Regions from separate parts of the Homo sapiens genome. Here region 1 is linked to region 2. Evidence: fine-mapped expression QTL. A gene starts in region 2. The other region holds a variant in brackets. All regions are shown on one strand. Distances are from middle to middle.

Region 1 (8,525 bases), 26 kb before region 2:
TCCTCAGTCGAGGTAATTGAGCCTACAGGCTCAGGATGCATTGCCGACTAGAGCAGAGCCCTGCCATCATCCATCCGTTGTCCTAGCTGATCACTTTATCCTGCAGACAGTACACTTGAGGGGTAGGAGGCCTCCTTTAACTGATTAGTCTGCCCCTGGTAAATCTATTGCCGCAATCCTGGGCCCAGAGACCCTCTCCAGCAGGGAGAACACTGTACTGGCCACCCCACTGGCAAGTCAATGCTCCTGATACTTAACCAGCTTAGAAGCCCCCACCTAGGATTTCAGGGCAGCTGCCAACTTTGGCTTTCTCTGTCTCATCCTTCCATTTCCCGTCTCTCCTCCCCCTACCCTACCCTACTCCATTCTGTGCCCTGTCCAGGTCTTCAGAGGCTGCCATAGCTTAGCACTCAACACCTCTTCAGGTAGAGAAATACTCAGCAGACCCAGCAGCCTGGGAGAGCAAACCAAGGCTTACTTTTGCCAGCTTATCCATCTTAGCAGTGAGCTTATTTACCACACATTTATTGAGCACCTACTCTGTCAGACCCTGTGATTTGGACAAGAGATATAGAACTGAACAAGATGTCTGTGTTTTATTGCCCTCAAGGCACTCACAGACTTGCTGAAAAATAGAACCACAGACAAATCTTTCCAGTGTTGAGTGATGAAGGCTGTCATTGAGGCATGCAGTTGCTCTGGGAGTACAGAGGAAAAAGCAGCCAGCCCCACCTGCAGGAGCCTAGAAAGTAGTAGCATTTGATCCAGGCTTCAGAAGAGGCAAAGCAGGGCAGTCCATTGGATGAGAGGGGGCCCATGTGCAAAGTCCCTCCCAAAAGCAGTCGTTTGAGCATGTGTGGCAAGAGCAGAGATGACAAGAAGAACGGGAGGCAGTAGGATGATACGACAAGAAGAACGGGAGGCAGTAGAATGATACGAAGCAAGGGTAGGTTAGGGAAATGGGTTGGGCAGTCTCAGTCTAGCCTTGAATGTCAGGCTGAGGCCTCTTGTGTTGCATAAAAGTTAGTCCAGGAAATGGGTTGGGCGGTCTGAGTCCAGCCTTGAATGTCAGGCTGAGGCCTCCTGTGTTGCATAAAAGTTAGTCCAGGTCTGGCATGGAAGACGGCATAAAGAGGAGCTGGATTGCAGGCAGTGAGACCTGTTGGGAGAATCAAGGATGGCCTAAAAGGGCTGTGGTGAGACCTGGAAGAGGTCTGGAGCAGTGAGGATAAAGAGGCTGGCAAATCATTAGTGCTTGGTTCATGACTGCCATGTGGGCTGATGGAGAGGTAGGAAGGCTCTGGACTAGCTGAAGTGGCTTTGGCCTCTTACAGAGTCCATTCTGGAGCCCTCTGGCTACAGGGAAGCAAGGCCAGCTGTGGCCTTCCTCTGAAGAGGGCAGTGGGCTGCTGTGACTCTGCGTTGTCACAGCTCTGGGCTCCCCAAGGTGCCTGGTATGGCTGGCTTGCCCCGGGCACATCAAGGGGTTCTTTGTCTCCTTCCAGCAGGAGAGTGGGTTGGCTGACCTGGTTGGGGAAGGAATAGGATAAGCGGTGTTGAGCTTCCTGGTCTCTGCCTGGCAGACATATTGGATGATAAGGAAGGATGCAAGGAGAACCAGAAGAGAGGACTGGGGCCTGAGGACATGGAAAACCTACCTTAGGGTGGTATGGCAACTGGGAAGGGTGGGTTTGGGCCTTTGGACACAGCATACACTGATCAAGGGGAGGCACTTGGCAACTGGAGGCTTGTTTGACCTCACCTAGCACCTTTATTCTGTTCTTAGAGGTGGTGCCTTGGCTGGGACAAAACCTGTGAGAAGGCAAACCCCTCAGCACTTACAAGGGGCACCACCAGTGGCATCCGGAGATGAGAGATTCTGGCTGGAAATGTGGATTTTAGGCTAGTGTTTGAGAAAGGGCTCTGAACCAGGCACAGGGTCAGAGTGTCAGTGATGGCTCCACCACTGACCTTTGTAATATGTGACTTAGGCACATCCCTCACCCAACCATGGGGCTAATGCTTCCAGTTTTTTTCACCCAGCACTTACTATATGTGTAGCCCTGTGCTAGGCTCAGGATATAGACCTGATCTTGCCCTCACAGGGAAATCAGACATTAAACAAGTAGTTTCAACCAGTCTGGTCAACATAGTGAGACCCTGTCTCTAAAAAATAAATTAGCTGGGCATGGTGGCACGTGCCGGTAGTCCTAGCTACTACAGAGGCTGAGGCTGAGCCTGGGAGTTTGAGGCTGCAGTGAGCTGTGATTGTGCCACTGCACTCCAGCCTGGGTGACAGAGCGAGACCCCATTTCTAAAAAAAATTTTAAAAAGAGAAAGAAGTTACCAGGTGTGGTTGTATACAAAGGATTGTGAGGATCAAATGAGATAATTGGATTAGGAGCATAGTGTAAACAAATACTGCTGAACGGAGATCTGGAGACCTTAACCCTATGCCTTACTGAGCCACTAACTAGCTGTGTGACCTTGAGAAAGTTGCTTAATCTTGGTTTTGTTTTGTTTTGTTTTGTTTTTTTGAGATGGAGTTTTGCTCTTTTGCGCAGGCTGGAGTGAAATGGCACAATTGATCTTGGCTCACTGCAACCTCTGCCTTCCGGTTCAAGCGATTCTCATGCCTCAGCCTCCCGAGTAGCTGGGGTTTTAGGTGCCCACCACCATGCCCGGCTAATTTTTGCATTTTTAGTAGAGACAGGGTTTTGCCATGTTGGCCAGGTTGGTCTCAAACTCCTGACCTCAGGTGATCCACCCACCTTGGCCTTCCAAAATGCTGGGATTACAGGCATGAGCCACCATGCCGGTCAAAAGTTGCTTAATCTTTTTAACCTCGGTTTTCCCCACATAAAAACTACGCAGTTTGTATGTGTGTGTGTATGTGTGTTTGTTTTTAAGAGACAGGGTCTGGCTCTGTCACCCAGGCTGGAATGCAGTGGTGCAATCACAGCTCACTGCAGCCTCAACCTCCCAGGCACAAGCGATCTTCCCACCTCAGCCTCCTGAGTAGCTGGGATTACAGGCTGAAGCCACCATGCCTGGCTACTTTTTTTACTTTTTGTAGAGACAGAGTCTCACTATGTTGCCCAGGCTGGTTTCAAACTCCTGGGCACAAGCGATCCTCCCTCCTCAGCCTCCCAAAGTGCTTACGTTATAGGCATGAGCCACTGTGCCAGCCAACTAAGGCAGCTTTAGTGGGATGGTGTTGAAGACAGCTACATCTGACATCCTGAGACTGACCGTGGAGTATATGAAAAGTGTTTTGAAGCCTGAGTAACATAGGGAGACCCCATCTCTACATCCCATAATTTAAAAATTAGCTGGGCATAGTGGTGCGCACCTGTTGTCCCAGCTACTTGGGAGGCTGAGGTAGGAGGATCACTTGAGCCTGGGAAATCAAGGCTACAGTGAGCCATTATTGCACTACTGCACTCCAGCCTGGGCAATGGAGACCCTATCTCAAAAAAAAAAAAACAAAAACAAAAACAGTGCTTTGAGAAGTTCTCTATGTGGTACCACGCAAGTTCAGGGGAGTCACCATGGCACATGCCACAGAAACCACTGCTCCCAGCATGCTCTGTTCCTCTTGTGAGAGGACATCTCTGATTGATTGATTGAGACAGGGTCTTACTTTTTTGCCCAGCTTGGTCTTAAACTCCTGGCTTCAAGTGATCTTCCTGCCTCTGCCTCCCAAAGTGCTGGAATTAGAGGCATGAACTACCATACCAGGCTGGACTTCTCTTTGTGTGCAGGATCGGTGTCCCTCAGGACTTTGGGAATGTAATCAAATCAAGGGATGCTTTGATTTATCTAGCTCTTTAGTCTGCAAAGTGCTTTCATTTCCATTGCCTCTCAGTAACCCTTATAGGAGCAATGGGAAATTGGTAGGCTATTATTTTACCCTGTTTCCTGATAAGGAAACCAAGGGTGAGCAAGTGATGGAACAGGGCCTGGCACCCAGCATTCCTCCTTCCTAATTTCCCATCTTACCAAAGTTGGTGACCACTGTGTGGCCTCTCCTCCTCCCCTTCCTGTCCCAGTCTTAGGACTTCAGCCCAGCCCCAAGTGTCTGCACTTCTCCTACCAGGCTTTTCAGGTTGTTTTTGTTGCTAAGTTGTCATGATGGATGACACAATTCCTGTCCCAGGACTCCACACACAGCTCCTCATATGTACCCCAAGACAAGGCAGGAGTAGCTGGGTCGTGAGTGACCCAGTGAAGGAGCATAAGTTCGGAGAACTCCTGTCCCTACTCAGTGCTTTGGGCCTTGGACACTGTGAGTCCAGAAGCGATCTTCCGCGGCCAGCCACTTTTGGAGAATGCTGCTGCTTTCCCTTTCATCTTCGCTTGGCTTCACAAAGAAAGAGAACCTAGGCTGGGCACTGTGGCTCATGCCTATAATCCCAGTACTCTGGGAGGCCAAGGTGGACAGATCACTTCAGTCCAGGAGTTCAAGACCAGCCTGGGCAACATAGCGAAACTGTATCTCTACTAAAAATACAAAAAAATTAGCTGGGTGTGGCGGTGGCATTGGGAGCAGGAGTATTGTTAGGATTAAGGGAGATGTTGTTGGTAAAGCACCCAGCACAGTGTCTGTCACAAAGTAAGGGCTCTGTGGAACATGGCGGCTCTCACAATTCGAGTGTAAATTACCCTCTGAGATTTTACCTCAGACATTTAGCATAATGGTAAGGGAGCAATGCAGCTTTGGGGTGAAAATCTGGCTTCCCTCACGTGCTCTTCCAACCTACCCCACGACCGTGGAGGTTAGGCAGGAGCCAGTCCCACTCAGCTTGTGGTCTGGAGCTTCCTGGCCTGCCAGGGCAGGTTGGGAATCCCCCCATGAGTTCCTCGCTGAGTCATCTGGAGCAGGGCTGTGATCTGAGGGCCTGACCTTCCCTTTCCTTGGTCTGTAAAGATAAGCAGAAGTAAGAGCAAAGGTGGGCATCCCGAAAGATTCCACTCAAGGCTTGCAACCAGAGTGCTGCCCGGGGCCTCTGTCCTCCTGGGTGGTGGTAGTCACTTGGGGAAGGAGTCTGAGTTTGCTTAATAATTACCACCACCCTCCTCTGTGGGTTTTTTGTGGGTTTTTTGTGTTTTTTTGGTGGGTTTTTTTTTTTTTTTTGAGTCAGGGTCTCCCTCTCTCACCCAGGCTGGAGTGCAGTGGCACAATTATGGCTCACTGCAGCCTTGAACTCCTGGGCTCAAGCAATCTTCCACCTCAGCCTCCTGAGTAGCTACGACTACAGACATGCAGCACTATGCCTGGCTAATTTTTAAAACAATTTTGTAGAGACAGGGTCTCACTCTCTTGCCCAGGCTGGTC[T/A]CAAACTCCTGGCCTCAAGCAATCCTCTGGCCTCTGCCTCCCAAAATGTTGGGATTATAGGCGTGAGCTACTGTGCCTGGCACCATGTAGACTTTCATCCTGAGCTTCCTGTTCTGCTTCTGAGTGACCCCCTCCATCCTCCCAGGATAGTCACAGTAATGCCATTTCACAGAGGAGCCTGTATGGTGGACGAGGCTTTCACCTACATCACCTCGTTTAATTCTGTGAGAGTATTTATCATCATAGTCCCCATTTTAAGAAGCAGAAACCAAGTCCCAGAGAGGCAAAGTGACTTGCCAAGCATCACACAGCTTGTGCCTCTGAGTCCACTGAGCTCCAAGCTCCTCAGGAGCAAGGCTGTGTATACCCAGCCTACTGGACAGCACTTGGTGGTGGAGTTGAGTGACAGAGGGAGAGATGAGCAGGGCCCGGATTCACTTTCCAGTGCCATCCCCTGCTTGACTTGGACTTTGGCCAGTTATTGTCTTTCTGAAGAACCTGAGTTTCCTTATTCACAAAAGGGAGTTGATAATTAGAGGATTTATCTCATGGGCTTGTCAGGATTAAATGAAATAATGTAAGTTAAGTGCTGAACACAGTGTCTGGTGCATAGCAAGCGTCTGTTGTTATAACAGACATTCAGTTAAGTTAATTGAATATTAGAATTGTAATGTTATAAAATGCCATCATCAAGCAGATCTGTGCTCAGCCCTGTGCTGGGCTTTGAGGAAGATCTAGAGCTGGTACCAGGCCAGAGAGGGAATGCTCTTTATCAAGTTCTTACTATGCTTTACCCACCTGATATCAAGGTAGAGGAGCATATTCCCTTTTCACTGCTGACAACACTTAATGAAATTCAGAGTGTCTGAGGTCACCAAGCTCATGAATCACTCAACACACACATTTGTTGGCCAGGCACGGTGGCTCACGCCTGTAATCCCTACACTTTGGGAGGCTGAGGTGGGTGGATCATGAGGTCAGGAGATCGAGACCATCCTGGCCAACATGGTGAAACCCCGTCTCTGCTAAAAAAAAAAAAAAAAAAAAAAAAAAAAAAAATTAGCTGGCCGTGGTGGCGCACACCTGTAGTCCCAGCTACTCAGGAGGCTGAGGCAGGAGAATAGCTTGAACCCGGGAGGCGGAGGTTGCAGTGAGTCGAGATTGCGCCACTGCACTCCAGCCTGGGCGACAGAGCAAGACTCCGTCTCAAAACAACAATAACAACACACACACACACACACACACACACACACACACACACACACACATTTATTGAGCACCAGCTAGGTATCAGGCTTGGGACACACTGCAGAGAATGAGGCCAAGAGAGCCCCTGCCCTCCAGGAACGCGCCTTCTCATGAAATGCTGCCTCTGCAGAACAGCCCTTAGGTGGAGAAGCTCCACCTGTCCCACTGGACTGCTCACATTCCCCAAACAAGCCATTCCCTCTCCTATTAACTAGCATTTGAACATACTGAGTGTTTTGCCTGGTGTGTTCTTTCCCCTTTCTCAGCCTAGCTACTTCCTGTCACCCTTCAAACCCCAATTCAAAAGTCAATTCCCCTTTAAAGCTTTCTCTAAACAGCCCGTCCTCACCCTGGGGTCTTTTTGCAGTCTCCTAGCCCCTTCTACATGCTCCTGTGATGGCACTTCTTCTCTGTGTGCTAGTTATTTACCTACCTGTTTGTTGATGCCAGATTGACCTCCTCAAGGGCAGGGACCACATTTTATTCATCTTTGTAGATTCAGGGCCTGGAACACAGGCTCTAGAAAGGTGTGCATGGAATATAATGAGGGCCTGATTGTGTTCTGTCCCTGGAGTAGTTAGGAGAGGCTTTGTAGAGATGAGAAGGAGTTTGGAATGATGCTTCCCAAGATGATGGCACCAAAATTGAATGGGGGTTGAAGGAAGATGGCTCAGGGGTAGGGGCCTATAGAGATGGGACTAGGGGAGAAAGGGATGTGCAGGGGAACAGGAGGGCCTTGAGAGCCAGGGCCTGAAGTTTCTTTGTTTTTTGTGTTGTTTTTGTTGTTGTTGTTGTTATTGTTCTTTGTTTTCTGTTTGTTTTGTTTGTTTTGAGAAAAGGTCTTGCCCTGTGACCCAGTGGCCCAGTCTAGGGTGCAGTGGCACAATCATGGTTCACTGCAGCTTCAAACTCCTGAGCTCAAGTGATCCTCCCACTTCAGTCTCCCGAGCAGCTGGGATGACAGGGCGTGTGCCGTAATGCCCAGCTACAGGGTCTGAGGTTTCTGTTGGATAATGAGGGCAGTAGGGAGCCATGGACGAGTCTGGGCAGAGGAGGGGCCTTATATAAACAGTGAGTCAAGACTAATTTTGGTAAGATCTATCAATGAGATCTAGCAGTTTGGTAAGGATGAGTCAGGGTGGCCCCTGGGTGCCTGCAGTGAGATTGTGATCCAAGGACTCAGTCACCAGCAAGGGAATTTCAAGCAGCACTCTGCCTGGTAGGAGCTGGGATTTGGAGAAAAGATGTCTTCTGTTGAGAATAGTCTCAGGCGGCACTCAGTCACTAATACCCGTAATCCTAACACTTTGGGAGGCTGATGCAGGCAGATCACTTGAGCCCAGGAGTTTGAGACTAGCCTGGGCAACACGGTGAAACCTTGTCTCTACAAAAAATGCAAAACTTAGTGGGGCATGGTAGCATGAGCCTATGGTCCCAGCTACTCGAGAGGCTGAGGTGGGAGGATGGCTTAAGCCCAGGAGGCGGAGGCTGCAGTGAGCCGAGATCATGCCACTGCACTCCATCTTGGGCGACAGAGCAAGACCCTATCTAATACCTTTCTGCAGTTGTCAGGGAGAGCTGCTTGGGAGTTTCTCTGTGGTCTACGCCCTTCCCTAGATGAGTGCATCAGAGGAAGGTAGATACCTTGGTTTTTCTTTTTGGGAGCCAGCAAGGCTAGTGCTAAAGGAACCATTTCTCACACTGAGTAGGGTGGAGCTGAGCAGAGTAGAGAGCTGGGCAGAGGTCCAGGGCACCAAGGCCAGTGAAGGGTGGAGAGAACCTGTTTACCATTGTGCACTGACCCAGCACTAGAAGGAGCAGAGCCAGGGAATTCCTCATGGGAAAGACAGGCAGCCCCAGAATTAGCCTGCATTGGGAAGGAGGGAGAGTGAAGCAAGCCAGACTCTCTCACTCAGACAGGGAGCCTGGACACTGCCAG
Region 2 (8,443 bases):
CCCTGTCCCCAGCAGCCCACAGTGGGGCCTCTCTTTGCAGAGAAACCCCAAAAAGCTTCCTTGTACTTACTGCCCATCCCCCATGCAGGGGTCAAGATCATCTTCCGGGTGGGGCTGGTGCTGCTGAAGCACGCGCTGGGCTCCCCTGAGAAGGTCAAAGCCTGCCAGGGCCAGTACGAGACCATCGAGCGACTGCGGAGCCTCAGCCCCAAGATCATGCAGGAGGCCTTTCTGGTCCAGGAGGTACAGCCCATGCCTGCCCCTTATCATGGGGAGGGAGGAAGACAGGTGGGGGTCCTTTGAAGGGGGTCCCGCTAACCCTCAGCCCCTGAGGGTGGATCCTATGCCAGGACCATTGCTAGGCAACACAGAACATGTGGGTGGACCTCATCCTTCTGTCTGGTGAAGAGCATGGGGCACAGAGAGGCTTGGCTCTGCAGGGCCTTCTGGATCCGAGCCGCTTGGGAATGAAGAAGAATGTTGACCCACGGCCCCGTCTTCCTCCCTGGTACCCCATTCGCAGCCTTGGCTCTTATTTCTCTTTGTTCTTTCTTTATGGATACTTGTCTCTCAGGGGCAATTAGGTGGAACATGCGTGACCAGCTTTTACACATGAGGAAATGGAGGCTCACAGAGGCAGAATCACTAAGCAACTCCCCTTAAAGTCACCCACCCAGGTGGAGCTGGAATTTGAGCCTAAGCAGCCAGGCTGCCCTGGGCAGCGGTGGGTGACAGGTTGGCAGAGAGCAGGTTTTTGTCTGTCTGGGTCTTACCCCTTTAGCCCCATAGTCAGGCAGGTGGACTCGTGAAGCTGTGGGCAGCTTTATCCTCTGAGGCGGTGGGTCTCAAGTGTCCAGCTCACCTGGCACTCAGCTGTGGGGCTCGTGACTGCAGCTTGGGACTAGACCCTCATCCTTCCTGGGGTCAGTGTTTAGTGGCCAAGGCTGGGGGATGCTGAGGAAGACTGGGGGCCCAGGCTGGGAGGCAGAAGGGGAAGGTCCTTCTTCTTGGTGTCCACTTGCCTGTGTCACTGCCCCTGCAGGTGGTGGAGTTGCCCGTGACAGAGCGCCAGATTGAGCGCGAACACCTCATTCAGCTGCGGCGCTGGCAGGAGACCCGGGGTGAGCTGCAGTGCCGCTCCCCGCCCAGGCTGCATGGTGCCAAGGCTATCTTGGATGCAGAACCTGGTCCCCGGCCTGCCCTACAACCTTCACCATCCATCCGCCTGCCCCTAGATGCCCCCCTCCCTGGCTCCAAAGCCAAGCCCAAGCCACCCAAGCAGGCCCAGAAGGAGCAGCGGAAACAGATGAAGGGGAGAGGGCAGCTGGAGAAGCCCCCAGCCCCAAATCAAGCCATGGTGGTGGCCGCTGCAGGAGATGCATGTCCCCCACAGCATGTGCCCCCGAAGGACTCAGCCCCCAAGGACTCAGCCCCTCAGGATTTGGCTCCCCAGGTCTCAGCCCACCACCGCTCCCAGGAGAGCTTGACGTCCCAAGAGAGTGAGGACACCTACTTGTAACCCTGGCAGCTAAGGCCTCCAGGGCGGGGTCTCCATATAACTACACGGTTCATGAACTGACATTCCACATCCTGCCCACCCTCTGAGGGCCAAGCTGCCTGGCCACTGGGCTGGGCTGGAGTCTGGCTGGTCCAACACAGATTCTGCCTGGTCCAACACAGATTCTGCCTGAGCCTCCTTATTTATTTTCTTTACAGTGGCACTCAGGCTGGCCCAGCCAGGGCAGGCAGAAGCTAGGGCCTGGGGGGTGGGGCCTCCTTCAGCCCCCTCCTCCTGGGGGATGCTCCCCAGGGTTAGGGTGCTGGTGTGAGGGGAAAGGGTGGGGTGTTCTTTGTGTAAAATAGAAACATGGTTTTGTACAGAAATAAACAGCCTTGTATAGAGAGCTCGTGTACAGCTAGGGGCTGGGAAGGGGGTACCACCTTGGTCACCTTGGTGCTCAGCATCTCTTCTCTTTGCCCTACAGAGCCCCTTCTCCTGGGCCCCAGCCCAGCACCAGAGCCTCTCTGAGAGGTACCTTTGCCAGAGGACATGCCAAGTCCCTGGTCAGCCCCCATTCTTAACCCCCATTTTCACTCACCCCATCCCCACTGCCTTATGTCTACCTTCTGCCACAGATGAGGGACACCAGGGCTGGAGCTCAGTGCTGGGCAGAGCAGGGCGTGCTCCCTAGGCCTTGGTCCTCACCCACCCACCAAGGGGGCAGGGACTCCTAAGGAGGAGGTTTCAGGGTCTTCCTCCTTCAAGTCCTGGCCTGGATGCTACCTCAGGCTCCAGTAAGTTTCTGAGAGCTGATTCTGGGTTGGGGTCAGGGACGGGGCCCGGAGTGGAGCACCACGAATGTCCTCACAGGCTCAGCCCAGGCCCTCAGGGAGGGGGGCGAATTGTGGTTCTTTGATAAAATGCCGCCTTCGATTTACTGCCAAGTGCCAGGCTGGACTGGTCAAGTAGGCTCCATTAGCCCCATTTAACAGACGAGGAAACAGGAGCTGAATGGGAAAGCCTCAGCCGGATTTGCACCAAGAGCCCCTCACTCAGCTTCCTCTCCTGACCAGGGCTCCAGGAGACCTGACTCTGCCCTTGAGGGCCCAGGCAGGCACTGCGGTCACAACCTGATGACTGGTGAGGGCAAGGACAGGGTGTCCCTGGGAGAGGCCCCCCTTCTGCTGAGGAAGCAGCTTTTCCAGTCAAACAATAGCGCTATTCCTGGCAGATGACCAAGCTGGGCCAGGCCAGGCCATAGCGGGAGGGGGCAGGAGAGGGAGGAGCAGAGCCTCCCTGGGAGCTTTCAGCCTTCGCCTGGGCCTGGAACATCCTGTCCTGGTACAGCTGGGGATACTGAGGCCTAGGGAGGTGAAGGGTTTCAAGAGACTATCAGGGTAGGCCACTCCACTTCCTGCCTCCTTCCCCTCAGCCCCATGGTTTCCCACTCTGTCTGCACCTGCCATTGATGAGATGGGCTCAGCCTTTGAGAAGCTCCTCCTTCCCCTAGTCCTCCAGGGGATAGGCCAGGATGTGGTGGCTACATAGTGTTTCACAGGAATGTGTCAAGCCCGAGAGTCCAGGGAGGAGGCTTAGCTTGGCTTCCATCTGCCTATGGTGGGGGCTCCAGAGCAGGCAGAGGGCCTGCTTAGGCCTGCTGGGTCCCAATCAGGCCTGAGGCCTGCTTTAGTCTACTTGGTTCAAAGCCTCACATCTGAGGCCTCAGGGTGCTCAGGCCAGGCAAGGGTCCCCTGGAGCATTCTCAGCCCTGCATGGAGCCAACATGGACATGCTGATGCCTGCTTAGCCTTGGGGGGGTCTTAGACCTGTGAAGGCCTGATAAGATCTGGGGTGTCTGCCAGTGCCGGGGGCCTCCTTGAACCTGAAGCAAGTTTAGATGTGCACAGGCTAGCTAAGGGCTGCAGGCTTTGGGGCTCAAGTTTCAGGCTTGAGGTCTGAGTACTCACTGAACCTCAGCTGCAAGGGCCTCCCCCACCAAAGTCTGAGCACTGGGCATTACTGGCTCAAGCACTTCCGGGTTTTGTTGGTATCGAGGGACCTCAAGCCTTAGGCCTTGGCCACCTGCAGCCCCCTAACCCAAAGTATGTCGCTCAGGCAGAGGTGGCTAGGATTCTACCTCTGTGTGCCCCTGGTGAGGAGCCTTCTATTTTGAAAGTTGGATGAAAGGAACAAGTGGGGCTACCAGGCCAGGTTTCAATTTGTCAGCCCCCTCGCAAGCGGGGAAGGGTAGGTATCAATCGCAATCCTGTGTTGGCGGCCCTGCCCCCTGCAGCCATGAGAGGCAGGAGAGCGAAAGGCGCCCGGGGGACAGCGCTGCACAGCAGACCTGTGCCTCTCATTGCTCCGGGGATTTGGGGGCAGCGTTCTGGTCCTAGCCGAGCTCCAGTTTGTTTCGTGTCCCTTCTGTCTCAAGGACTTCAATCATGAAACCCACGTGTGTGCCAGAAGGACAGAAACGTCCCCTCCGGGATGCTCCCACCGGCTGCGCAGCTGGCTTTCCGCGGAAAGGGCGGAGCCCAGGGAGGGGGCGCGTCAGGGGCGGGGCCTGGAGGAGTCAGACGGGGTGGGGTCTATCCCCGAGCCAGTACTAAAAAAGGCGGAGCCGTTCGGGGCGGTCTCGGTGGGCTGGCTGGAAAGCGGGATGAGGTTCTGGCGTTAGGAGGAGGCGTGACCACCCAATAGGCTTCTCTTCCCGCGGGGCGTGGCCGTCAAGGAGCCGGACGCCGCGCCTGGCTGGGCGGGTCAGCCTCGCAGCGGGCGGCGTGGACGCGGCAGCGCAGCGGCTCCTTTAAGGCTCGGGCACCACCCCCGCCGCCCCGCCTCCCGTGCGGCCTGGGTCTAGTTGGCGGCGGGGTCGGGTCCGCGCGAGCCGCGATGGAGCTGCACATCCTAGAACACCGGGTGCGGGTGCTGAGCGTCGCCCGTCCCGGTCTCTGGCTCTACACCCACCCGCTCATCAAGCTGCTCTTCCTGCCCCGCCGCAGCCGGTGCGCGCCCGGGTTCGGGAGCGCAGATAGGGGCTGGGGGCTCTGCTCTCGCTCCGGGCCAGGGTCGGAGGATTAGGATCGCCGTAAGGCAGGCAGGCAGGCGGGCGGGAGCGGGTGGGGAGGACTCTCCCCGTCCGGCCGCCATCCGGCCTGGGGGACCGCCGCCTATCCGGCCCCGTGAGGCCCCCTCCCAGGGGCAAAGCGCAAACAGCCTGGGATGGGCAATGCTTAACTCAGTAGTGTCAAATGGGGGCATTCCTACCTGGTCACTGCGGGGAGCTCCTTCCAGGACGCCTCCCTTCATGTCAGAGGGGCTGGACTAGGGGGTCCAAGGTCCGACGCCCCTGGGGCTGTCGCCGCGGGTGTGAACCTCTCCTCCCTCCAGGAGTGGAGGGGTGGAGGGTTCCTGGAGAGGTCGGGAGGCCGGAAAGTAGCCCCCAACCCCCGAGATGGGGCTAACATCCCATTGGCCTGGAAATTAAAGGCCGAGAGGGCAAGAAGGCGCCCGGCCCAGGGTCGCGGGGGTGTCTCGGGGCAGATGGAGAGAAATCCACTCCCGACCCCTAGTTCTCCACACCAAGCTGAAGATGCTCCCCACCCCCAACCAGGTGCAAGTTCTTCAGCCTGACGGAGACCCCTGAGGATTACACGCTTATGGTGGACGAGGAGGGCTTTAAAGGTGGGGGTTGGTCTGGGGAACGGGAGTACGGGAGGGGCTTGTCGTGCTCCCCTTCTGTAGGGTTCTCACCAGTTGCTGGGATCCGTCCCAAGAGCTTAAGCCTTAAAAGCAGATGGGTCGGGGTTCGAATCCTACTCCACCACTCCCTGGCTGTGTGCCCTTGAGCAAATCACTTTCCCTCTCTGAGCTGTTTTCTCTTATGTAAAATGGGTATAGTTATGGTTCTGATACATAGGGTCCCATGAGGCCTTTATAAACTTAAAACCGCTGAGGGGCACTCAGCAGTCTTAGGCCTGCAGAAGGGCCTCTGTTATGATTCCAGTCAAGTGCTGCTGTTAGAAATCCCTGGGTATTATTTCCTCCTGGTCTTACTCTCTGGTTTGGGTCACCTCCTCCCCTGCTGGTCTGGAAACTCCAGGAGTCTGAGGGAAGGAATGCAGGAGCAGGCAGCCATCTCAGGGGAGGGTCCTGGAGGCCTCCTGGCTGTGCTGGGGTGAATAGCAGCCACCCAGGCCCTGGCCCCAGCTCAGGACTGGACGCCAGCCTGGGCCCTCCCTGGGGCCTGGAGCTGACGCCTAGCTCCTCCTCCTGCTGCTGGCCCTGCCCATCCTCACAGGCTTGGAGTCTCAGGCCAGCTAGCTGGAGCTTAGCCTGTCCCCATGCTCCACTGCAGGCCTTAGTTTCCCTGTTTTTACTTCAGAAGTCTGGGTCTGCAAAAGGGGAAGGCAATCCCCCAGCCAACCTGATCTGCGAATGCCCCCTGGTGGTGCCATGTGGTACAAAGCTTCTGCTAACCCACAGAAGACACCGTAGTGAGGTAGATATTGTCGTCCCATTTTACAGATGAGGAAACTGAGACTCAAATCACCCACCCCAGGTCATAAGACAAATTAACAAAGCTGGGATTTGAACCCAGGTCTGTCTGAATCTGGACCTCTGATCTTAAGTGGGAAGTTTCAATGCCACCAGGCCAGCACTTGAAGCCTTTCTCAGTCTTTGCACACATAGGGACTTCAGGAGCCCCAGCCTCCAGACCTGCCCTTACCTTGATGGAGCCCTCCAAGGCACAGAAAGGGAAACTGAGGCTCAGAGAGGGGCAGGGGCCAGCCTTGTAGACCCTGACCTGACATGTCCCCTGCCCACAGAGCTGCCCCCATCTGAGTTCCTGCAAGTAGCTGAGGCCACATGGCTGGTGCTGAACGTGTCGTCTCACAGCGGTGCGGCAGTGCAGGCTGCTGGGGTCACCAAGATCGCCCGTTCGGTCATCGCGCCACTGGCCGAGCACCACGTGTCTGTGCTGATGCTGTCCACTTACCAGACGGACTTCATCCTGGTGAGTTTCCTGCTGGTGCTGATGCAGAGCAGGGTGGATATAGGTACCTGGGAGCCCATGTGATGTGCCATCTGCTGTGGCCCAGGTGCGGGAGCAGGACCTGTCCGTGGTGATCCACACGCTGGCCCAGGAGTTCGACATTTACCGCGAGGTGGGCGGAGAGCCTGTGCCTGTGACGAGGGATGATTCCAGCAATGGCTTTCCCCGCACTCAGCATGGTGAGGGCCGCCCCCTGACACTTGGACTTGGGCAGGGCCTCCTCTTCCCACTGGGTCCCTTCCCTTTTGGGCCCCAGTGGGGCAGGAGGACCCCGGCCAGTTCCTGGATAGCAAGACCTGCCCCTGGCCCACGCCTCTCCCTGACTAGCCACCAGGGGGCGCCCCAGCCCACGGACACCTTTTCACCTGCTGCTGTCCTCCAGCAGGGCCCAGCCCCACGGTGCATCCCATCCAGAGCCCACAGAACCGCTTCTGTGTCCTCACACTGGACCCTGAGACGCTTCCAGCCATCGCCACCACCCTCATAGATGTCCTCTTCTACTCGCACAGGTGGACCTTGGAACTTCGTCTTTGTCCTCACAGCACTGTTCCCTACACTCTGTCCCACCACTTTCCGCCCATCTATCAGTTTTGCACCTCTTGCTTGTCCTCTCTTGGGGTTCCTGGCAGCCCATGATGCTCACTTGTGCTTCACTGATGTTCGGGGAAGGTTCTTGCCCCAAAGCTGGATCCCTTTCCAGTGGGGTCGTCTGAGCCATGCCCTGGTCTGGCCCTCTCACCGTGGAATCCTTTGTTTTTGGCACAGGCTGGGTTCATTGTCCTCCCCCATCCCCACCCACACCTTCCAGAGGGCTGGACCCTTGGGCGGGTAGCAGATATGGCAGAGCCTGCCCAGGCCACCATACCAGCTCCTTCCCAGGGTTCTGGAGGCTGATCGGGAGCAGGGGCAGTAGGCTGGGTGCCTGGTAGAGCCCCTAAACCTCCCATCCCTCCCCAGCACCCCCAAGGAGGCAGCCTCTAGCAGTCCTGAACCCAGCTCCATCACGTTCTTTGCCTTCTCCCTCATCGAGGGTTATATCTCCATTGTCATGGATGCTGAAACACAGAAAAAGTAGGTGACCCCTGACCCCGGGTGGGCCCCAGGCCCCAGCCAGTCCCAGGCAGGGAGGAGGTGGGGCATCAGACTCTGAGGTCAGCAGGTGTACCTGTCCCAGAGCTCACGGTCAGGCAGGGGTGGATGGGGGTGCCCTGCCCATCACCCATCTCCCTCCCCAGGTTCCCCAGTGACCTCCTGCTGACCAGCTCCTCGGGGGAGCTGTGGAGGATGGTGCGCATCGGTGGACAGCCCCTGGGCTTTGGTGAGGGCTGTTCCCGGTGTTGGGGGGCTGGGGAGTGTCTGGGGAGCAACCGGCATGTGCCACATGTGGCCTTCCTCCACCACCCTCAGATGAATGTGGCATCGTGGCACAGATTGCAGGTCCCCTGGCTGCCGCTGACATCTCTGCCTACTACATCAGCACCTTCAACTTCGACCACGCCCTGGTGAGCACCAAGGGCTGGGGCAGAGGGGAGAGTGAGGCCCAGAAATGTGGGCGGCAGGAGGTAGTCTCAGCTGGGCCAGGAAGTCAGGGGTGGCCCTGGCCAGCTTCCGCCTTGACCCTTCCCTCCTGCCCACCTGCCCTCAGGTGCCCGAGGACGGTATCGGCAGCGTCATCGAGGTCCTCCAGCGGCGGCAGGAAGGCCTGGCTTCCTGAGGCCCATGGGCAACAGAGCAGCCTCCCTGCTCTCCCCTCGACCCAGGCTTCCAAAGACTTCTCTAAGCTATTTCCTTAAGCTCTGGAACGAGCCCCCTGTTCTGCTGGGGACCCTCGTTCCGCTCTCTGTATGTAAGCTGCGTGCAGGCACCGGCTTTTACGCGGACAC

What was found. PIP is the estimated chance that this variant, and not a neighbour inherited with it, causes the effect.
Region 1: its variant is the best candidate, but not a certain one, in a credible set for the expression of CASTOR1 in whole blood (INTERVAL, PIP 0.60).

The regions. Positions count from the first base shown.
Region 1 is chr22:30,311,423-30,319,947 of GRCh38, reverse strand. All of the region lies in intron 1 of TBC1D10A (TBC1 domain family member 10A), which reads left to right. Among named protein-coding and RNA genes, the nearest start is that of TBC1D10A, 11 kb to the left of the region's middle. RefSeq lists an enhancer at 5,051-5,110. The variant T/A (reference allele first, on the strand shown) is at 5,339.
Region 2 is chr22:30,285,451-30,293,893 of GRCh38, reverse strand. It overlaps CASTOR1 (cytosolic arginine sensor for mTORC1 subunit 1), which reads left to right and starts at 4,389. Exons shown (of 9, transcript NM_001037666.3): 1 at 4,389-4,509; 2 at 5,118-5,188; 3 at 6,334-6,521; 4 at 6,607-6,739; 5 at 6,946-7,069; 6 at 7,518-7,631; 7 at 7,796-7,878; 8 at 7,968-8,062; 9 at 8,206-8,443. The coding sequence starts at 4,397. The coding sequence ends at 8,274. It overlaps TBC1D10A (TBC1 domain family member 10A), which reads left to right. Exons shown (of 9, transcript NM_031937.3): 8 at 89-243; 9 at 1,043-1,904. The coding sequence ends at 1,519. RefSeq lists an enhancer at 3,072-3,131 and silencers at 4,012-4,451, 4,652-4,731.